2 separate regions of the Homo sapiens genome follow, and region 1 is linked to region 2. Evidence: fine-mapped expression QTL. Tissue or cell type: monocytes. Region 2 holds a variant in brackets; the other region holds the start of a gene. All regions are shown on one strand. Distances are between the middles of the regions.

Region 1 (4,145 bases), 48 kb before region 2:
AACTTGGCCAAAACCATTGGGGGGTGAGGGATGATGAGTTTTCTGTCACCTGAGGCATTTCATAATAGACTGAAAAATAATTCAGAGAGTATGTTTTTGTCTACAGAGAGGGGTGAATTAGGGGTGTGTAGGAGAGAATTCAGGCATGAACATCATTTGGATGAGGTGACCTGTAAGAGGATGTGGTTCTTTATATCCAAATTCTGGGACCAAATAAGGTTTCATTCTTGCCTCTAAACTCTAAAACCTATCTTCTCATCTGTTTGCAATAGTTTACATTTTAATCTATTTCATATTTCAGGGTATTATGCCCTGAATATGTGATTTGAATACCGTGGCAGAAGGTCACTCATATTCATTCATTTTATTTTACTCTTATATACTTGCAGTGAGTCTTTTGAATTCATTATGCAAACACATGTAAATCATATGCAAATGATATAGCTTAAGAAAATGACAAAATCTGATGGCCTTAACTGAGCCATCAGACCTTTCTTTAAGAAGGAAAGTAATATGCCTTTCAACATCTCTGGGGCAGGAGACAATTTCCTGAGAGTGATATTTACACGACATTGGAATTCGTTACTCAGTCTTTGCCTCACATTCTGCATATTTATGTGGGACTTTAAGATAAGAAAAGCATTTTCACATACATGATCCTATTTGATCCTCATAATTACTCTGTGATGTAGGCAGAAGAGGAATTATAATTCTTGTTTTTCAGATGGGAAAACGGACTTAGAGAAGTGAAATGACTTGCCCAAGGTCACTCAGTTGGTAAGCAAGGATCTGCGGTCTACCACTAGACTCTTCCCAGTTCTCAGCTCTTCCTAATATACACTGATGGATGTCTTATTTGAAGCAAGGTGGTCCGTCATTGGTCTGGGTTTGCTTAGACTGTGTCTTGCTGATAGCATCTTCAGAGATGATTTTGTTGATGAAGATGGCATTTTAAGGGTGACCAGGAAAAGCCCAAATATGTGTAGCAGGCCTAGCAGACTGCCAAGTACATATTTCCTCCAATCCCCTCTGCTTTTTAGCATCTTTTCTGAAATCTCCAGATGAACAACATTCTTCGCCCCATCTACTCTTCAGCTCCTTCAGGAGGCAAAGTCCTTTCTTAAACTGTGAAGAGTAGCAGCATAGTCTCTGCAGTGAGATTTTCTGGATCTGAAGCCCTAATCTACCACTCTCTAATTGTGTGGCTTGGAGAGATCATTTAATTTCTCTTAAGCATCAGTTTCTACATCTATAAAATGAGGGAAATAATAATATCTCTCTTATAGAATATATGGAAATATTCGAGGATAGGAAAATGCAGCAAAAAACTGCATTAAACCTGACCCAGTGTCTGACACATAGTAAGGACTCAATAAATGGCAGATACTATAGTCATTTGATTCATCATAGTAATACTGTAGAGGTGGTGGTGGTGGTGGTGGTGGTAGTAGTAGTAGTAGCAGTAGTTAAGTCATTGTGAACTCTGATACTAAGAACTGGGCTCTTGGAAATGGAGTGGGAGAACAGTAACACCAAATATATCCTGTATGCCAGAGGGTTGAAGAACAGACAGAACAGGTAGCTAAATGCAGCCTATTGAGGAATGTTTGAACTTTGGCTTTCTTTAATCATTGCCACATCTTGCTCCATAATAAGGGTAATTGTAATCCTGCTTCAAAGCTATTTCTAAGAAGAAATAGAGCCAAGGCTGGCATCCCTAACTCTACTCTCCTTTAGCCAGGCTGCTCTATCTATGGCAGTGTCCCCTACTTCCCCAGGCCAGGTTAGGAGGGAACAAGAGAGTCCACCCCAACTGCTTTAACAAGCCTGAACCGCCAGGTCAAGAGATGAAGTAATCTTCCCCCTATACGAAGACCAGAGGTGGGGATGGACAAGGTGGCCAAGGCAGCAGCTGAGGCTCAAGGAGCAGATACACTCTCAAGCCTGCTCCCTCCTGCTCCAGTTCCCAGCTCAGCAGGTGCCACTGAAGGGCTCAGTTCTTCAGTCTGCCCCTGCAGAGTGCTCTGCCCTTCCATGTTCTCTGACACCTCTTCTATTCACTCACCTAGGACAACTAAGAAAGTGGCCTCCTTGGTGAGTAGAGCTTCCACAGCCTCTCTCGGGGAAAAGGACCAGAAGCTGTTGGAGTTGGCCAAATGCTTGAAGTTGGCATAAAGTCAATTGGAACCATCACAATGAGAGTCTGTGTGATCAGCCCAAAAGGACTGCACAACTGATTCATGTTCAGTGCCAGGAAATGCAACGGGCCATTCTGGGGTTGGGTCCTCAGTTATTTTTGGCAAAGATGGGTGGTATGCAAAAGGGACTTCCTTTTTTTTTTTTTTTTTTTTTTCCAGCACAGAGCCACAGAATGCTGAGCAGTCAACAGCATTTCTTGTTCCAAGATCACCCTTCTGAGTACCTCTCTGGCTGCCAAATTGCCAGGGCCTTCACAGTTTGATTCCATTTCTCAGCTCCAAGCATTAGGTAAACCCACCAAGCAATCCTAGCCTGTGATGGCGTTTGACGTCAGCTGCTTCTTTTGGGTGGTGCTGTTTTCTGCCGGCTGTAAAGTCATCACCTCCTGGGATCAGATGTGCATTGAGGTGAGTCCAAACTGTTTGTCTTTATGCAGATTAAACTGTCTGAAAATTTTGAGATTTAGCACGCAGTCCAATCTGAGCCTTGGCATCCCAATATCTAGTGTCTTTAAAAAGGAAATAAGGTGTATATATAATTTTTTCATTATTGTGAGAAAGGAGCCAAAGAACTCTGCCAGGGGATCATCTGGTGGCATCTTAATAGGAAGCAAAGAGAATTTTTCTCCTCTTCAAACAATTCCACCCAAATAATCCCAAGTGGGTCATAAGATATTAATAGGGTCTGTGTGCACAAAGCAGACCCCTAAACCTGCCTCAACCTAGGGGAGCTGTTGGTTTAACATCCCCACTCTCACATGGCCTCTATCCCAATGAGTCCTTTGGTCTCCTCTCAGGGTGAGAATTAGTAAAGACAGCGCTGTGCCAGGTTTTCGAGCATTGAAAAGATCACTCTGAATGAGTCTGGCTCTCTCTTGGACTTGGACAGCCTTCCATCTGTTTTACTAACCCATAGGAGGAAAATCTGAGAATAGAGCCAAATTGCACCTTCTGTTTTGGACCATAGCAATATTTATCAACCTGTGGGAAGTTCTTGGAGGGGATAATGAGAGAAAAAGGAGAAGGGCCTCCGTCTCTTGCCATCCTCTAAAATGCTTCAAACTTCCTCCCACTTTCTCTGACCCCACAAGTGATCAATACCACGTGGCCTGTCAGACAAGGGCTGCATACAGGAGGAACCATGAGTCTTGGTGGCTTGGTGAGCTGCTGGTCTGGGTTGAGGTAAAAAGAAGAGTAAGAGCCAGGAATAGCCAGATGTGGAGTTGCCCTGGGGCAGGACTAGAAGGAGATCAGAGGATCAGGAAGAGCAGAGCAAAGCCAGCACTGGGGTAAGGCTCAGAGCTGGGTGAGCAGAGCCTTGTTGGTCTGGCATTAGGATGGAATCAGCAGCAGGCCAAGAGGAGGCATCATGCCAATGAGAAATGAAGGCTGGGAAGGTGTGTGTTGCTTTGCTTGGGCTGTCATAACAAATGCCACAGACTGGGCCAGGCGTGGTGGCTCACGCCTATAATCCCAGCACTTTGGGAGGCCAAGGTGGGTGTATGCCTTGAGACTGGGAGTTCGAGACCAGTCTGGGCAACATGGCAAAACCCCATCTGTACTAAAAATACAAATATTAGCTGGGCATGGTGGCACATGCCTGTAATCCCAACTACTCGGGAGGCTGAGGCAGGAGACTCACTCAAACCCGGGAGGCAGAGGTTGCAGTGAGCCGTGATTGTGCCACCGCACTCCAGCCTTGGCGACAGAGCAAGACTCTGTCTTAAAACAAACAAACCAAAAATACACCAAAAAACAAAAACAAACCAAAAAAACCCTGAATACCATAGACTAGGTGACTTAAACAAGAGAAATTGATTGTCTCACAGTTCTGGAGGCTGGAATTTTAAGATCAAGGTGTTGGCAGAGTTTGCTGCTTCTGCACCCTCGCTCCCTGGCATGCAGATGGCCATCTTCTCTCTGTGTCCTCTCATGGCCTTTCCTGTG
Region 2 (4,354 bases):
TCAAGACATGCAGGTGGGAGGAGGTCACTGTGGACACACATAGATCCCAAACTGCTGAAAGGCCAGGCCCCCACTTCTTTACCTTCTGATGGTCTCCCTTATCTCCCCAAATCAAATAATTTCCTTGTTCTACCAAAGTACGGGCTTCCTAACCAGCTTTCAAAACTGCACTGGCCCATATCCAACTTACCTTCCCATCTGTGCAGCTGCACCAGGACCATCATCTTCAGCTTATGAAGAGTCACACAGACTAGGGATACAGGTGTTTGTTTTATGGTGCTAAACAGGACACCTCCCAGAAACTGAATCTGCTAGATTGAGCACTACTCCCAAATGAGCATTTGTTTATGTCAAATTGCTTTCTGCACAAATATGAAGCTTCAAAAACATAAACAATGCCTTTTATACATGATCTGTTTTCTTCCAAAAACAAGCCATCTGCAATATAATTCGAGTCCCATTCTACTCTCTTGCTGTCATTTGAGTGATATCACAACCATCAGGGTGTATATTTCATTTCTGCCAGTGGGATTACTACAGAGTTAGTGATCAGTAGTGGCAAAACCAGTTTGTGGGAAAATACTACAATTCAACAAAACCTTAATTAAGCCCAGTTTTCCAAAACAGGGCAGAAGATGATTTGCTACCAGTAGGAGGAAGCATAGCTCAACTGACAGGGTTGGGAAAACCTAGAATTTCAATGCTGTCTGTGACTCTATCTCCAGAAATGAAAAGCTTAACTATTTTCCTCATTAATTAGATGAGAAAAACTATATACTTAGCTTTCCAACACAAATGTTGTAAACAGCTCTATAAAGTGTATAAATTATACATACTCTAGAGAAAAAAAATTATTCAAGGAAGGAAAATTTATCATTTAACTTGGAGGGAGAAAAGAAAACGAAAGGAAACAAAACAGAAACAAGCTTTCATGGGAAGGAAGCCTCTCTTGTACCCCTGATGCAGAAAGTGAGATGAAATAGGCCAAAATGCTCCTTGGCGGCCCTACAAATCCTGCAGGAAGAATTCAGAGTCTGCAGGCAGAAGCTCTCAAGAGCTGTCCTGGGACATGACCCGTTATTACTTCAAGCAATCTTGCATCTCATTCAGCATTCCAAATTGGGAGAGGAGGGATGGGACCACATGCACAAATCACACAATTTCATGCAAGTAGTATCTCTCTACCTCCTGGGATCATGAGGGAAAGAGCACTGGCAGAGAGGGACTTTGTGACTTTCCCCGAGATTTTCTTTTTTTCTGTGCTTTCTAATCGCTGCCGAGCCATGTGAGAAGCGGGTTCACTGGATGGCTTTGAGGAATTATCTGTACTGTCCACACACTCGCTTCGTCCATTTATCTGATCCAAGTGCTCTGAAAAACTGCCAACTGTACAAAGAAGAAGGGATAAACACATTCAGGAAAATCCAGGATAGGAGAGGTGGGAAGACGGGAAGAGAGAGACAGCAGGAAGAGTAAACGCCAGAGAACATACTCCTATGTGGCCAGTAAGTCCAGACGGTGTCAGGCGAACATTAACAACATGTGATTGCTTTGAGAAAGGTGACGTGGAGGAGGAAGAGATGGAAGAGGCATCTATTCAGGCTTCATTCTACCTGTACACAAGTCTGCTAATTCTCAATCCATGACTCCATGTAACCAGAGGAATTAGTTTCTTTCAACAATCTATATTTTTGAAACCTTGCAGAGATAATTCTGGTGCCCCTACCCCCCCCATACCATGAAAGGCTGTGCCATGAATCAAATATTACCTCCCAAACACCATGGCCGCCCACTTCATACTGTGATTACCTTATGATACTGATGATTATCATTATCAATGCTGTTAATTATAATTTTGACCTGTGGACATTTTTTCATCACTCCCTGTAGACTTACGTCTGTGCTGTTAGAACACACCTCATAC[T/G]AGGCTGAGGCAAGTAACTGATAGAAAAGTGCCTAAAGTGTCTCTTCTCACTTCTCAGGCCATATGCCTCCTTTCATTCTAAGCTCCCTGTACATTTCAAAGGACAAGCAAGACAAAGGATATTACTCCCTCCATTACTCAAGTTCACTTCATCCTGCTGGCTTTTAATCCAGTGTATCATATGCTGATCCTCCCTCATGCTATTTCCTCTCCCCTCTAAACCACACCTTCTTTACTTTTAATTTTGTTAATCTTTAATATAAACTGGAGTTATTTTTAACTTAAAAAAAATTAGGGCTTCCCTCAACAACGGAGCGTAAGAGAGGATAAATATGGAGGGGGGTGCAGAAATGGAACATCACTGACCCTGGTCTGGTGAATGCAGAGGCCGAGAGTAAAGAAAGCTCTGCAGCAGGGTGACATTTTGAGTCCCCCAGAAGGAAGCTGAACAGCTATTCCTTTTGATTTGTCCTACTTTTTCTTTCCCAGGTTATCGGTTTTCTATCGTGTTTTTCTTTAAAAACATCATTGATAGCACATTTTTGTCCATCCAGGAGAGAAAATGCTCATCTCATTTTACTTCTACATGCTACATTATAAGCCCCATGTGCTTAAAAATCATCAACTGTCTCATCACCTTTAGAGATACAATCCATGCAGAGTATTAACACCACTATAAATGATCCTTTGAAAGAGCGGCCAGCACATTTCGAAGTGCTGACCATATGACACTGTTTGCCTGGGAAAGAGTTAGACTTAGACTCAACTAGCATTTCTCTTACACTGCTGTCTATATACCACTCAGTGGTATGGTTGTAGTTTGGCCCACGCTCATGGACAAAGTTCAGATCTTACAGCTGTGGTCTAGGCTAAGGGTAGCTGGGAACTTGGACAGCAGCTTTAGTCATAGCACACTTTGTGGTCATCTACTGTGCATATGTACAGGAAAAGATTCATGGACTTCCACATAACACCCATCTGACCAACAAAGGGAGATAACCTTAAGGCAAATATCAATGTTTTTACTCCTATATGCTAAACTCATTCTCATTTAACAGAATATTCCATTCTCTTACAGAAATCAGCTACTGAAGGTCTTGATAAAAACTGCTTCACAAGTAATAAATCTCATCTCACAAAACTTAAGCTTCCCATTGAGTAAGGTACACACTTCCTTCTTTGTAATTTGGTTTGGATGGGATCACTGACAAGTATAAAATGAAAAGCTGAATCTCTTTACAATGAGTAATTGTTGGATACGTTTGACCCCTACATCTAAGACTTCAAGACGTTTATTTTTCATGGCTTCAAACACAATGTAGTCATGATAAAAGAGAAACATGTATAAAGTTGTACTTCCCTAAATGCCAGAGTGTGGATATACAACCTTGTGTCACCTCTCCCTCTTGCCTCTGCCATCTTATTTTGCAGCACTGCATATAAGCGTGAGCTTCTTTTCTGCCAATGGTAGATAATGTCACTTTAATGTTCTCTAAATGTCAAGGGTTCCTTCTTTTTGGTGGTGGAGCAATATAAAAATCAACAAATTTAATTTTACTACAGTCACGGTTTTCAGACTTCCTAATTACCCTTGGCTATAAGCAAATCAGCTCATCTCTCTATTCTGCACAGCCCCCAAGGCCTTTGATTATTTTTAGTGTGCGTATGGGGGAGAGAGAGAGAGAGAGAAAGATGGTGTGAATCTATTAATCAAAATGCATGGCAGGACCTAGGTGAATTTTTTTTTTAATTATGAAAGTAATCAATCAAATGCTTAGACACGATTCCCCTCCCTTCCCCTCCTACCTTTCCGGTAGTGAGCAGGCTGAGGAGACTAAGAGATAGTAAACAGTTCACTATATTAAGAAAAAAATTTTAAATGGAGGTGAATATACTCTATTCAGAGTAAGGTAACTAAGAACCAGATAAAGGCCTTTGTAACCAGGAATAGAAAATACCAAGATATCTACATATGATCTGAGCATCAGCATGAACTAGAGATGGTCAGGCATCTTAGTCTAATAGGTTGCCTTTACACTACTTCCTCATTGCTGTTCTCTTGGCTTTATGATTAGGATAAGTGGAATTACGCAACATGAAAACAGAACTGAAGTGAAGACAGAGAAGAAAATCCAACATTATTTTCCCCCACAATAAACTATAAGCACATGTGAAGCTTCACAGATCCAAACTTCTTAGTGAGGTTGAAATAAATCCAGCCCATAAAATTTTTCCTGAAATGATTAAAAAAAAGCTTACACTATGAATATTCAGTTAGTTTAAAAAATGTTGACGAAAAATCTTGGAATCATTCATGGTTATCAATACAGCATATTGAACGTAGCTTAATGAAAACATTCATTACAGCAATTCTAAGCCATATACATCTCTCATTTTTTGAAAAAGCATAAATGCACATACTCTATAGAA

The links. PIP is the estimated chance that this variant, and not a neighbour inherited with it, causes the effect. A credible set is the group of variants that fine-mapping cannot tell apart.
Region 1: it holds the start of CD180, and the variant in region 2 is the best candidate, but not a certain one, in a credible set for the expression of CD180 in monocytes (Quach 2016, PIP 0.69).

The regions. Positions count from the first base shown.
Region 1 is chr5:67,195,013-67,199,157 of GRCh38, reverse strand. CD180 (CD180 molecule) reads left to right here and starts at 2,359. Exons shown (of 3, transcript NM_005582.3): 1 at 2,359-2,606. The coding sequence starts at 2,517. RefSeq lists an enhancer at 3,386-3,535.
Region 2 is chr5:67,146,421-67,150,774 of GRCh38, reverse strand. MAST4 (microtubule associated serine/threonine kinase family member 4) reads right to left here. Exons shown (of 29, transcript NM_001164664.2): 24 at 1,186-1,386. Among named protein-coding and RNA genes, the nearest start is that of CD180, 48 kb to the left of the region's middle. The variant T/G (reference allele first, on the strand shown) is at 1,925.